Linked DNA regions of Homo sapiens. The protein of the gene in region 4 interacts with the protein of the main gene of each other region in a pairwise test. Each region holds a gene or a part of one and is shown on either strand. Other genes may lie near its edges. The genes, in order: MEOX2, POLDIP3, ZNF343 and RAD51D.

Region 1 (3,604 bases), on a different chromosome or scaffold from region 4:
AATAATGTATCTATTGATCCATTTGTGCTCATCTCAGATGTTGTTTTTATGTTTCAGAATAAGTATTTTCATTTAAAATCTCTTGACATTATTTATTACCAAATTAACAGAAAGTTACATGGTAAGTGTATGATCGAATGGGTTATTAATTTTCATGGGTCATGAGTGGGTTTTTAATTTTCCTCTATATTTGAAATTTTTGATATATAATTTCCGGAATAATAAGTAGCTCATTATTCCTGAAGCTTTCATTTATAATGTTACTTTGTGTACAGAAATATAATATTTCTAAATTTATATATGTTACTCACTACTAATTGTGCACTGTATTTTTAAATATTGGTTTTCACAGTGTTATGAAAATAATTTACATTTTTTTGGTTTCTTACATCACCATATGCACAAGAATGATCAGGTAGAATCCGTACTGTATCTATACATTTTTGGAAAGGGTTTGTATGAAAGATAGAAAAACCCTTTCAAAAATAATCCCTTGTTTTATCAATAGAATTAGAAATTAATAAACTGGATCATTAACTTGTATGATAATATTGTTATTTTATTTTTAAAATTTCCATTTATTTAAATGTTTAATAATTCTAAAATGTTTGTGTACCTTGATGACAATTCTTATGTCCTTACAATGTGTACTTTTATTGCAAATATAACATATTTTTACTAGGTAGTAACTCAGTGGTAAAAACTTTAGGGTACTGATTATAGCTCTAAATTCAAAAGCTGTTGCTCTTCAAAATTTTGTAGAATCAATTCAATGTGAATGTTTCAAATGTATTTAAGTATTCTGCTGTTTGTGTTCATAAGCTTTCTTTCTAAGATGTTAGACGTATGTTTCTTAAAGCTTGCATAGGCTACATTGATTAAAATTATGATTATAAGCTGCTTACTTTCATAGTTTTTTGTTTTTATTGTAGTCTAGTAGAGAGGACAATGGCAAGGAAAGGATAAAAGGGAGGGTGCTGAATTAACTAGGACATGGAAGCTATACTTAAAACACACGTTAAAAGAAGGCGTTTACTTTATATATGTATATACATATATAGGTATATGCACACTCACACCCACACATATATATGCATGCATTACTGTAACTCCAAATTTAATTTCCTGATAATAGTAAATCTGAATTAGAGCATCCTTATTAAATGCATAATATGATTATAAATGTTCCAATTACAAAATTAAATATTAAGCTTGAAGCATATATAGTTTTGTGAAGAGTCCAGCAGGCTTAAGCTGGCAATCAATGATAGTTATAAAAGTCCCTGCAGTTTTTGTTTTCTTTTGTTTTTCCTCTTTATTTAGCTCATTATTCTTCACACACTTCAAGAGAATCCCATAATGCTACAAGGAAAAAACAAATTCGCAGTTATCTTACGTGACTGTGGGCAAGAAAATGACTAAGGTGAAATCATCTGTCAGGCTCCGCAAAACCTAGAGGAGGGTCCAGCTTAGGTTGGCAGATGCCAGTAGAATTTTAAAGGCCTAGAATTTTACTCTTTGAAAATATAGCCTTAAATTTTTGCCAGAAATGACACCCAAATGAAAACTTATTTTTGCAAAGTGATAGTTATTTGCAAATGCAGTAGTGAAATATATTCAGAGTCTGTTGAGGTAGCTTGTCCACTGTCTGGACTGCACAGTAAACATTTGGATGGTTATTCTTAGCCACCCAAAAAACTAGCAAACTAAACTGAGGTGTATTCTTATTAGTTGAAAAGATTAAATGGGCATGCCTCTTATCAAATTAACAATGAATGCAAAGCAAATTTTGCAAATCATTGATTTATGTTGGTAGGTAACACAAACAGGAAACTATTCAGAAAAATAAATATGTGTTATCCGAAACGTAATGGGGACTAGCTTGGTTTTGTAGAACAACAGCAATTTAGCAAATAACTTTCACATTTAAAGAACCATATAAATAATGCTTTAGCACTCACTGCATAGGTTGGAATCAAGTGATGTCTTATTTAATATTATTCAAAGATAAAATGAGGTCTTAGTATGTGTAGTGCCTTTAACAATTAAAATTTTCTCACCTATAGGCTATGCTTACGTGGGAATTTCTTTTTCTTATTTGAAGTATAAACAGATCTGGATGCATTAAACTAGACAGAATGTAGATGTAAAAATGATTGAGACATATTAAAATGACAGGAAAGTCAGAGTTTAGGCATCCCTATTTGGAGGCTTGCTGCCACCCATGTTTCTAAGATTACAGTCTTGTGAATGTCCACACTCAAAATTCAGGGAATTATAAATAATTTTTCCTCCAGAACTATTCTTTGCTCCTGGAAGTAGAGCTGTATAATTTATTTTCTAGAATACCCAGATGTTTAGGAAAGTATAAGTAAGTGGCAACACTTTTGCATATTTAGCCATTAGTTGATAAATCATAAAAGATTTATCCTATTTCTTAATTATCATATTAGACAAGGAAATAGATGTCACACTCAAAGGGATAATTGAAGAGAGTTTGATGATGGCAATTTGATGGTGAGTAGAATGTAGGGAAACCACAGGAAATGATGAATCCCCCAGGGTCTGTCCACAGTTGGAATATATTAGCACCCCTAACCTGAGAGGGTAAATGCAGGGACCTCTTACCAGAATCCAATGAGCGCAACAGGACAGAAGCCTTCTGGAAAAGTTGGGACCTCAGATGGAGGATTGCAGCTCATGTCGAATATCATCCAGTAACCTGTCTTCATGTCCTCCAATCTTCTTTTGTTGCTTCCATTGATCAAACACTATCCGAAGCCAGAACCCCGGAGGGTTAGGTGGATGCAACCCTAAGAGTCAACCGAAGAAGAAATGAGGCAAGCATATCTGGGAGAACACAATAGTTAGGGCTAAACCCCCGCTGTGTCTCTTACTATTGTCACCTCTTGGCCACAAATTTAACTTTTCTCTACCATCGTTTCTGAAAAGGAAATTGAGTTAATATACACAAAGCAATTAGAACAATGTCTGGCTTAGTAAAGTGTCAGTTATTATTTTTATCATCTATCAATGAATGTACAATTATGTAATGCATATGCACCATCTGAAAATAATCTATTTTATGCTACCTGTTTGCATTTTATTACAAATACTGCTATAGGAAATGTAACTTGCCTAAGTAATTACTAAAGATTTAAAATAATCATTGTCCTTAGAATTGTAAACGGCATGAAATTTCCCTGAAATGTAAGGTGAATTCTAGCCAAGTTATGTAAGAGGCTCAAGTTGCCTTTCCCACCCTTAAGATTTCCATTCCACAGCCTCTTTTACTTGGACCTCTCCTAACTTCCTCTTCTCTTGGGTCTCCTGCTACTTCTCCATTGAAAAGCTGTTTTCAGGAAGAGTGCATATTGAGCAAAATAAAGAATAAAATGAGGACTCTTTTTTTTTTTTTGAGACCGAGTTTTGTTCTGTTGCCCAGGCTGGAGTGCAGTGGCGCAATCTTGACTCACTGCAACCTCTGCTGTCCGGGTTCAAGTGATTCTCCTGCCTCAGCCTCCTGAGTAGCTGGGACTACAGGCGCCCGCTAATTTTTATATTTTTAGTAGAGACGCGGTTTCACCATGTTGGCCAGGCTGGT
Region 2 (3,604 bases), on a different chromosome or scaffold from region 4:
AGCTTTCTGGGGCTTCTTCCTTATAAAGGGCACTAATCCCATTTGTGAAGTCTCTGTCCTCATGACTTAATCACTTCCCAAAGGCCACCACCTTCTACCACCATCACATTGCAGATTAGGCTTCAACAGAGGAATTTTGGGGGGACACAGATGTTCAGTCTGTATTACCGCCTTAGGTTTGGTACTGGCATATTGGAGGCAGCAGGTGTTTTTCCATTATTTGAGGGATAACAAGATGAAGGTCCACGTTTGCTTTTATTGGTACCAGGTAGACTCACCTTTGGCTGCACTTCTGGTATTCATTAGCAGAGGAACTGACAGCCAATCTCACTCCAGCCACTGGAATGCAGCAGTGGGAGAGTGCCAGTGACTGACCCAGTATGAGAGATGCCTCCTGGGAGGTCCAGGCAGTGAAGTGGGAGGCAATACAGGAACTCGTTTATGCAGCAGAGTTTACCCTCTAACAGCAGGTCAGAGATCCTCAACATGGCTCTTCTCCAGAATCACCCATGGAGTTAAAAATGCAGATGGCCAGGCCTCGCCCCAGATTTTGGATTCAGCATCTAGGGTGGGATCTGGACAGCTCTGTATTTAAGAAGCTCCACAGGAGTTTCTGACACTCAGCCAGGGCTCGATGCTGCTTAGGAGGTGCTGGGCCCTGCAAAAGGACTGAACCCCATTCTCCTCCCCCCGCCCCACCCAGGGTAGGGAGAGAAAAAAGGAAACAAGCAGGTATAATAATAGGCACAGAGGAGAGTTGGCCTGGAGAAATCCGGGAGGGTTTCCCAAAGAGCACCCCTTGACATAGGAGTCCGCAGGCAGAGCGTCTGCCGCATGAGTGGCCGTTGAGGGTAGCTATTGTAGAGAGGCCTGAGGGTGGGAGGCGACAGAAGAAGCCCAAAGACCTTGGGGAGGATCTCCAGCGCTATACTCAGGAGGGCCTTCTGTTCACTTTCAAGCCACTGTAGGCCAACAGAGGAACCCAAGAAAGAGACCGGGGCCTGTTTATGGAGTTTCATTCATTTCCAGTTAAAAAAAATATTTTATTTTAAATTCAGGGGGTACATGTACATGTTTGTTCCATGGATTATATTGCATACTGGTGAGGATTAGGTTTCTAGTGTACCCATTACCCAAATAGCGAACCCTGTACCCGATCATTTCCAATTTCAGTGGTTTCTGTATTTGATATTTTTGCTATTGCAATTTTTTCTTTCTTTCCTACCAAGTCTTTGTGTTTTCTGTTTTCCTCTAGCTCTAAGCCAGACCCATATGTTTGCTCTCTTGGTCTTAGCCCAGTAGATGGTGTCTGCCTTCCTTAGAGACACTCTTTGTTAATCATTGAGCCTCTCCAAACCTGCTTCTCCCACTGTAAAGTGGGCATAGTAAGTACTTCTCAGGGTGCTGAGAGGGCTGAGTGAGAACATGGATGGGGATGGGCCTTGGAAACTAAAGTTACTCCTCAGATGAGTGGGATTAGATTTGGTGGATGTTTATTTTATTTGACTGGCATTGTTGGGAAGTTATTGTCCATGTTGGTGTCTCAAGACACGTGGTCTAGGAAGCAAAACACTCTTAACTAGGAATAAAACTTGCCAGCCCCTCTCTCTTAATTTTGCTTAAAATGCAAAGTTAAAAGCCATCATGAAACCAGGAAAGGAGTCATCATGTAGGCATAATCGTTTATTCAATCACAGGCAAGGAGCCGCTTTCTGATTCTCCAGGGCCTCCTCTGTCCCCAGTGTTACCACAGTTCCGCTTTCATAGACTGCTGTAGATACCCAGATCCACTTAATATTGATTGCAATTTATATTTACAGGCTTAATGCCAGACCGGGAGTTGGAGGTGTCCGATCTCGAGTTGGGATCCAGCAAGGCCTTCTCAGCCAGTCAACACGCACAGCCACCTTCCAGCAGAGATTTGATGCCCGGCAGAAGATTGGCCTCTCAGATGCCCGGCTCAAACTGGGAGTCAAGGATGCCCGGGAGAAGCTTTTGCAGAAAGATGCCCGATTTCGAATCAAAGGGAAAGTGCAGGATGCCAGAGAGATGTTGAACTCTCGCAAGCAGCAGACCACGGTGCCCCAGAAGCCCCGCCAGGTTGCTGATGCCCGGGAGAAGATCAGCTTGAAGAGGAGTTCCCCTGCTGCCTTCATAAACCCACCCATTGGGACAGTGACCCCTGCTCTGAAGCTCACCAAAACCATCCAGGTGAGTTGTGGCTTTTGTCATGAATTCCCAGAAAGCTAGTAACAAAGGTAGATTTAGAGGCAAGGTGCCAGGAGTGACTGGGCAAAAATACTATCCTCTCAAGTGTTGGCATAATACAGACTTTGCTCCTTACAGAGGCTTTAAGTACGTTATAGCCAAGGAACTATACAAGGAAGGAAAGGTATTATCTCAGTTCTAAAAAAAAAGAAAAAGGAGGCCCATAGAAATTTGGTGACTTTCCCAGGTGAGATACTGGTGGAAGAAAGAGAGAGGAAAGGACAAAAGATTTATTGAGCACATGCTATGTGGCAGGCCCTTAATATCTGTGACCTTACAGTCCTCACTCCACCCCCAGGCCCAGTGGGATTTGGCCCCTAGTCCAAGGCCCTGGCCACCCTTCACAGCTGCCACCACAGAGGGAAAGGAAACAATGTCATTTAACCTTCATAGCAGCTTTGGTAATAGGAACAGCAGCGGCCACAGCAAACATTTACTGAGCCAAGTCCATTAAGCCCTACATGTGCGTTACCGGCATGGTCTCTGGATTGATGATTCTTCTGTTACTTCCTACTGTGGAGGATAAGGCCCTCTGTAGTGCCTTTTACCAAAGACCAAAGCTGCATGCCCACCATGTATCAAGTTCAGTAACCCCCTTCTTCTAGAGAATGCATGTGGACCCTGTGGGGTGGATTCTGACCACTGAGTGTTTCCAGGTTCCACAGCAGAAAGCCATGGCACCACTTCATCCCCATCCTGCCGGAATGAGAATCAATGTTGTCAATAACCACCAGGCCAAACAGGTAGAGTGAGTGAGTGAGAGAGAGAGAGAGAATCTGTGTGTACATAGCGAACATGTAGGTGTGCACGTGTTTTGATGAGGCCTACTTGGGTGGATGGACTGAGGCTTGCTCAGTTGGTAGTTCCCAGTTGGTAGTATTGGAGGCAGGGTTACAGCGAACTTTTTGCAATTTGAGTTTAAAGAAGAAATTTTTTTTATTTTTTTATTTTTTGAGACGGAGTCTCGCTCTGTCGCTAGGCTGGAGTGCAGTGGCGTAATCTCGGCTCACTGCAACCTCTGCCTCCCGGGTTCAAGTGATTCTCCTGCCTCAGCCTCCTGAGTATCTGGGACTACAGGCGCGTACCACCACACCCAGCTAATTTTTGTATTTTTAGTAGAGATGGGGTTTCACCATGTTGGCTAGGATGGTCTCAATTTCTTGACCTTGTGATCCCCCCGCCTCAGCCTCCCAAAGTGCTGGGATTACAGGCGTGAGCCACCACACCCAGCCAAGAAGAAACTTCTTAATAGAGGAAGGGAGGCATAGGGGGCAGAGAGGCTAAAAAAAGTTTTGTTTGTTTTTTTTAATTTTTTTACGCTTTTTTTTTTTTTGTC
Region 3 (3,604 bases), on a different chromosome or scaffold from region 4:
TCACTCTGATGGTAGTTTCTTTTGCTGTGCAAAAGCTCTTTAGTTTAATTAGATCCCGTTTGTCAATTTTGGCTTTTGTTGCCATTGCTTTTGGTGTTTTAGACATGAAGTCCTTGCCCATGCCTATGTCCTGAATGGTATTGTCTAGTTTTTCTTCTAGGGTTTTTATGGTTTTAGGTCTAACATTTAAGTCTTTAATCCATCTTGAATTAATTTTTGTATAAGGTGTAAGGAAGGGATCCAGTTTCAGCTTTCTACATATGGCTAGCCAGTTTTCCCAGCACCATTTATTAAATAGGGAATCCTTTCCCCATTTCTTGTTTTTGTCAGGTTTGTCAAAGATCAGATGGTTGTAGATATGCGGCATTATTTCTGAGGGCTCTGTTTTGTTCCATTGATCTATATCTCTGTTTTGGTACCAGTACCATGCTGTTTTGGTTACTGTAGCCTCGTAGTATAGTTTGAAGTCAGGTAGCGTGATGCCTCCAGCTTTGTTCTTTTTGCTTAGGATTGACTTAGGGCTGTTTTTTGGTTCCATATGAACTTTGAAGTAGTTTTTTCCAATTCAGTGAAGAATGTCATTGGTAGCTTGATGGGGATGGCACTGAATCTATAAATTACCTTGGGCAGTATGGCCATTTTCACAATATTGATTCTTCCTACCCATGAGCATGGAATGTTCTTCCATTTGTTTGTATCCTCTTTCATTGAGCAGTGGTTTGTAGTTCTCCTTGAAGAGGTCCTTCACGTCCCTTGTAAGTTGGATTCCTAGGTATTTTATTCTCTTTGAAGCAATTGTGAATGGGAGTTCACTCATGATTTGGCGCTCTGTTTGTCTGTTATTGGTGTATAAGAATGCTTGTGATTGTTGCACATTGATTTTGTATCCTGAGACTTTGCTGAAGTTGCCTATCAGCTTAAGGAGATTTTGGGCTGAGACAATGGGCTTTTCTAGATATACAAGCTTGTCGTCTGCAAACAGGGACAATTTGACTTCCTCTTTTCCTAACTGAATACCCTTTATTTCCTTCTCCTGCCTGATTGCCCTGTCCAGAACTTCCAACAATTATGTTGAATAGGAGTGGTGAGAGAGGGCATCCCTGTCTTGTGCCAGTTTTCAAAGGGAATGCTTCCAGTTTTTGCCCATTCAGTATGATATTGGCTGTGGGTTTGTCATTGATAGCTCTTATTATTTTGAGATATGTCCCATCAATACCTCATTTATTGAGAGTTTTTAGCATGAAGGGTTGTTGAATTTTGTCAAAGGCCTTTTCTGAATCTATTGAGATAATCATATGGTTTTTGTCGTTGGTTCTGTTTATATGCTGGATTATGTTTATTGATTTGCATATGTTGAACCAGCCTTGCATCCCAGGGATGAAGACCACTTGATCATGGTGGATAAGCTTTTTGATGTGCCGCTGGATTTGGTTTGCCAATATTTTATTGAGGATTTTTGCATCGATGTTCATCAGGGATATTGGGTCTAAAATTTTATGTTGTTGTTGTGTCTCTGCCAGGCTTTGGTATCAGGATGATGCTGGCCTCATAAAATGAGTTAGGGAGGATTCCTTCTTTTTCTATTGCTTGGAATAGTTTCAGAAGGAATGGTACCAGCTCCTCCTTGCACCTCAGGTAGAATTCGGCTGTGAATCCATCTGGTCTTGGACTTTTTTTGGTTGGTAAGCTATTAATTATTGCCTCAATTTCAGAGTCTATTCAGAGATTCAACTTCTTCCTGGTTTAGTCTTGGGAGGGTGTATGTGTCCAGGAATTTATCCATTTCTTCTAGATTTTCTAGTTTATTTGCGTAGAGGTGTTTATAGTATTCTCTGACGGTAGTTTGTATTTCTATGGGATCAGTGGTGATATCCCCTTTATCATTTTTTATTGCGTCTATTTGATTCTTCTCTCTTTTCTTCTTTATTAGTCTTGCTAGCGGTCTATCAATTTTGTTGATCTTTTCAAAAAACCAGCTCCTGGATTCACTGATTTTTTTGAAGGTTTTTTTGTGTCTCTATTTCCGTCAGTTCTGCTCTGATCTTAGTTATTTCTTGCCTTCTGCTAGCTTTTGAATGTGTTTGCTCTTGCTTCTCTAGTTCTTTTAATTGTGATGTTAGGGTGTCAGTTTTAGATTTTTCCTGCTTTCTCTTGTGGGCATTTAGTGCTATAAATTTCCCTCTACACACTGCTTTGAATGTGTCACAGAGATTCTGTTATGTTGTGTCTTTGTTCTCGTTGGTTTCAAAGAACATCTTTATTTCTGCCTTCATTTCATTATGTACCCAGTAGTCACTCAGGAGCAGGTTGTTCAGTTTCCATGTAGTTGAGCGGTTTTGAGTGAGTTTCTTAATCCTGAGTTCTAGTTTGATTGCACTGTGGTCTGAGAGACAGTTTGTTATAATTTCTGTTCTTTTACATTTGCTGAGGAGTGCTTTACTTCCAACTATGTGGTCAATTTTGGAATAAGTGCGGTGTGGTGCTGAGAAGAATGTATATTCTGTTGATTTGGGGTAGAGAGTTCTGTAGATGTCTATTAGGTCTGCTTGGTGCAGAGCTGAGTTCAATTCCTGGATATCCTTGTTAACTTTCTGTCTTGTTGATCTGTCTAATATTGATAGTGGGGTGTTAAAGTCTCCCATTATTATTGTGTGGGAGTCTAAGTCTCTTTCTAGGTCTCTAAGGACTTGCTTTATGAATCTGGGTACTCCTGTGTTGGGTGCATATATATTTAGGATAGTTAGCTCTTTTTGTTGAATTGATCCATTTACCATTATGTAATGGTCTTGTCTCTTTTGATCTTTGTTGGTTTAAAGTCTGTTTTATCAGAGACTAGGATTGCAACACCTATCTTTTTTTGTTTTCCATTTGCTTGGTAGATCTTCCTCCATCCATTTATTTTGAGCCTATGTATGTCACTACATGTGAGATAGGTTTCCTGAATACAGCACACTGATGGGTCTTGACTCTTTATCCAGTTTGCCAGTCTGTGTCTTTTAATTGGAGCATTTAGCCCATTTACATTTAAGGTTAATATGGTTATGTGTTAATTTGATCCTGTCATTATGATGTTAGCTGGTTATTTTGCTCGTTAGTTGATGCAGTTTCTTCCTAGCCTCAATGGTCTTTACAATTTGGCATGTTTTTGAGGTGGCTGGTACCGGTTGTTCCTTTCCATGTTTAGTGCTTCCTTCAGGAGGTCTTTTAGGGCAGGCCTGGTGGTGACCAAATCTCTCAGCATTTGCTTGTCTGTAAATTATTTTATTTCTCCTTCACTTACGAAGCTTAGTTTGGCTGGATATGAAATTCTGGGTTGAAAATTCTTTTCTTTAAGAATGTTGAATATTGGCCCCCACTCTCTTCTGGCTTGTAGAGTTTCTGCCGAGAGATCAGCTGTTAGTCTGATGGGCTTCCCTTTGTGGGTAACCCGACCTTTCTCTCTGGCTGCCCTTAACATTTTTTCCTTCATTTCAACTTTGGTGAATCTGACAATTATGTGTCTTGGAGTTGCTCTTCTCGAGGAGTATCTTTGTGGCGTTCTCTGTATTTCCTGAATTTCAGTGTTGGCCTGCCTTGCTAGGTTGGGGAAGTTCTCCTGGATAAT
Region 4 (3,604 bases):
TTCCAGAGCTTCATATAAATGGATCTTTTTGCTATTGAAGTAACTTTTTCTGCTTATGAGGTAGTTTTTTTAAAGTCTGCATGCTTCTCATAGAAAGGATAGAAAATAAATATGATTCAAATTTGTCATCAATCTCCACATCCACAGAAACCATATTAATATTTTTACATATCTCCATACAATACTTTTTCTGCATATTTACTTATACTTTTAGCCAACTTTCTTTCTTTCTTTTTTTTTTCTTTTGAGATAGGGTTTCGCTCTGTTTCCCAGGCTGGAGTGCAGGGGCACAATCACAGCTCACTGCAGCTCGACCTTCCAGGCTCAAGCAATCCACCCGCCTCAGCCTCCCAAAGTGTTGGTATTACAGGTGTGAGCCCACACTTAACCAGCTTTCTAACTAAACTAACCTCATGAAAAAATAAAAAAAAATAGGCCAGGTGCGCTGGTTTATGCGTGTAATCCCAGCACTTTGAGAAGCCAAGGCTGGTGGATCACTTGAGCCCAGGAGTTCGAGACTAGCCTGGGCAACATGGCAAAACCCCACCTCTACAAAAAATACAAAAACTAGGTGGCCTTGGTGGCAGGAGAATTGCTTGAGCCTGGGAGATCGAGGCTGCAGTGAGCTGTGATCATGCCACTGCACTCCAGCCTGGGCAACAGAGCAAAACCTCATCTCAAAAACAAACAAACCAAAACAACAACATAAAAAATACCATCTGAGTCCATTTCCTATGTTTTAAAATAGATTTTTTAGAAATGTAATTTTTAGCAGCTATATATTTTTTCCAGTTTCTTTTATTGTGGTAAAATACATGTAACATAAAATTTACTATCTTAACCACTTTAAGGTATACAGTTCGGTGGTGTTAAATACATTCATAACGCTGTACAACCATCACCACCATCCATCTCTATAACTCTTCACCTTGTAAAACTGAAACTCTGTACCCATTAAAAATAACTCATTTTCCCCTTCCCCAGCCCCTGACAACCACCATTCTACTTTCTGTATCTATGCTTTTTGACTACTCTAGGAACCTCATATACATGGAATCATATGGTATTTACTTTTTGTGACTGGAGTATTTCACTTAGCATAATGTCCAGAAGGTTCATCCACCTTGTAGCATGTGTCAGACTTTCCTTCCTTTTAAAGGCTGAGTGTCTGGGCGTGGTGGCCCACACTTGTAATCCCAGCACTTTGGGAGGCTGAGGCTGGCGGACTGCATGAGCTCAAGAGTTTGAGACCAGCCTGGAAAGCATGGTGACATGTGCCCCATCGCCTTCTGGTTCGGGTCAAACCTGAGGCATCGAGATTTAGTGGAAAGAGCGGGGCACAAGTCAGGAGGCCCAGGTTCTAGTTCCAGACCTGCCATTAGGTTTTGTAACCTTGGGGAAGTTATTTCTCTGTGCTAGGCCTCTGTTTTCCTCTCCGTAAAATGAAGCGGTAGTAATCGATGTCCTCTATACTAGCATTATGGATCTGTAAGTCTGTTTCTGCTGCAGGTGACCAACCACATAACTCGAGACAGGGACAGCGGGAGGCTCAAACCTGCCCTCGGACGCTCCTGGAGCTTTGTGCCCAGCACTCGGATTCTCCTGGACACCATCGAGGGAGCAGGAGCATCAGGCGGCCGGCGCATGGCGTGTCTGGCCAAATCTTCCCGACAGGTGAGCCAGCCCCAGGAAGATGCCAGTAATCTTGGGCCCTGGAGGGTGGTTTCCATACCCACAGATGTCTTCGAGAAGAACTCTTTAGAGGCTGAAACCTTGCAACTAAAGAAGCTACCCACTTGGGTTGCTTAACTCCACTGACTCCTTACTTCTTCTTCCAGCCAACAGGTTTCCAGGAGATGGTAGACATTGGGACCTGGGGGACCTCAGAGCAGAGTGCCACATTACAGGGTGATCAGACATGACCTGTGCTGTTGTTTGGGAAACAGGGAAGCATTGGGGACCCCTCCCAACTTTTCTTCCCAGTAACGCCTGCTGTTTACTGCCACCTGGCACTGGTGACTACAGACGTTCTCAGGCTGGCCAGAAGAGACATCTTGGGTTCCTTGGCCTCACTCTCTGTAAGCATATAAACCACAGGCGAAAGAGGATGCTGCATTGCGAGGACCCAGAAATTCATACTGGTGCCACGTTTCCTTCCCTTATTTCTAACGTGTATGTTTCTGGTGGAAACCAAGTTCACCCTGGCTGGGAGCATCTCTGATGAGGCATGCTGGCGACTGGATGGATAATCCTGTGCATCACCATTGTGTCCTGTGCTCCCTCCTAGCGCAGTGGCCAAGCCGGGAAAGCCTCTAACTTGCCTTTGCTGCTGCTGCCTTTTTTTTCTTTTGTCTCTGCCTTTCCATTTGTTAGATGGGGGCCCACTCTTCCTTAGCTCTGTCTCTGAGTTACTGGGTGGAAATAAGCTTATAAATGAAATACTCTTCTTCATCTCTGTTTTGCTCTTAAAAATATAAAAAGGCAATTCCCCGAGCCCTAGAGCCACCTGATTTCCCCTTAGAAGGCTGTTTTTCAGTTTCCCCCAGTGAGGCCCAAAGAACAGTTTATTCCTCCTTTCCTCTTGCTGATTTGGTTTCAGACCTGCCTGCATCACCATGACTAGGTGAGAACGTGTGGGCTCGCTGCAGTTCCAGGGATATAATTTAACAGAAAGGGAGGGTATGACCTGCTCCTGGTGAATCCAGCCACTCATTTAATATGCATGGTGCCCTGTGGGGCCCCTCCACAGTACAGCATAACCAGAGGTGCTGAACCATGGCCTTGCCCATAAACAGACAGAGGAGAATTTGCACAGTAAATAGAGCCAGCTGGGAAAATTGATGCTGACGTAAATAATACATGGCAAATCTAGTCCTTTATGCAGAAATTCATTGCTGGTGGCTCCAAGATGCAATATAATTACACCTCTCTTCCTGCCAGCTGTACCACAGCTAGTGCCCTAGTGTATGAAATAATCCCTCTGTCTTTCACCAGCACTGTGGCCATCCGTCTGAGAGCCATGACCCTGGCTGGGAGGGGACGAAGACACCAGGGAATGGAAAATAAAAGGAAAAGTACAGAAATGATCAGGATTGGTTACTGGCCACATCTTTTAAAGGAAGGTCATCTTTCTTGGTTAGAGAGCCTGTTGTGTAATTAATCAGTTATGTCTTGGCTGCAGGAAAGGAGGGTCCGAGTTACACTCAGAAAGTAATGACATTTAGAGGTGATGAATGCAACAGGGATAGAATCATGGAGGATTGGGAAGGAGTGGCAAACTGGCACCAGGGTGTTGGATTCAGGACAGGGTTGGTAAGCCTAAGCCTGGGGGAATCCTAGCGCTTGCTTTCACAGAAGACCTCAGGAGAAATTAATCTTCAGTATCTTTATACCATGGGTGATTGGCACATTCCTGCAACCACAGTAAGATGCAATACATGAAGCTGGAAATTGCAAATTCTTGCCACTCAAGGTACTATTTGGGCATCTTCAGCCCACAGCAGACATGACCAATCGGGCACAAGCACTCTTTTTTGTGGAAGTCAAAGTGTTTTTAGAAGTTTTTCTCAATATAGCACTCCAGGGGGCCACTACCAGTCAGTTG

What was found.
Region 1: the proteins of RAD51D (region 4) and MEOX2 interact in a two-hybrid assay, tested with the Homo sapiens proteins (one large-scale study listed by BioGRID).
Region 2: the proteins of RAD51D (region 4) and POLDIP3 interact in a two-hybrid assay, tested with the Homo sapiens proteins (one large-scale study listed by BioGRID).
Region 3: the proteins of RAD51D (region 4) and ZNF343 interact in binary tests that used the Homo sapiens proteins (3 or more experiments, as listed by UniProt).

What each region holds. Positions count from the first base shown.
Region 1 is NC_000007.14:15,676,672-15,680,275, reverse strand, and holds part of MEOX2 (homeobox protein MOX-2), read left to right. Parts: exon of another isoform or gene 1-1,362; intron 1,363-2,628; exon of another isoform or gene 2,629-2,813; intron 2,814-3,604. UniProt on the Homo sapiens protein: Mesodermal transcription factor that plays a key role in somitogenesis and somitogenesis and limb muscle differentiation. Required during limb development for normal appendicular muscle formation and for the normal regulation of myogenic genes.
Region 2 is NC_000022.11:42,601,377-42,604,980, reverse strand, and holds part of POLDIP3 (polymerase delta-interacting protein 3), read left to right. Parts: intron 1-1,820; coding exon 1,821-2,211; intron 2,212-2,873; coding exon of another isoform or gene 2,874-2,924; coding exon 2,925-3,011; intron 3,012-3,604. UniProt on the Homo sapiens protein: Is involved in regulation of translation. Is preferentially associated with CBC-bound spliced mRNA-protein complexes during the pioneer round of mRNA translation. Contributes to enhanced translational efficiency of spliced over nonspliced mRNAs.
Region 3 is NC_000020.11:2,502,395-2,505,998, reverse strand, and holds part of ZNF343 (zinc finger protein 343), read left to right. Parts: intron 1-3,604. UniProt on the Homo sapiens protein: May be involved in transcriptional regulation.
Region 4 is NC_000017.11:35,099,271-35,102,874, reverse strand, and holds part of RAD51D (DNA repair protein RAD51 homolog 4), read left to right. Parts: intron 1-1,509; coding exon 1,510-1,674; intron 1,675-1,838; coding exon 1,839-1,922; 3' UTR 1,923-3,604. UniProt on the Homo sapiens protein: Involved in the homologous recombination repair (HRR) pathway of double-stranded DNA breaks arising during DNA replication or induced by DNA-damaging agents. Bind to single-stranded DNA (ssDNA) and has DNA-dependent ATPase activity.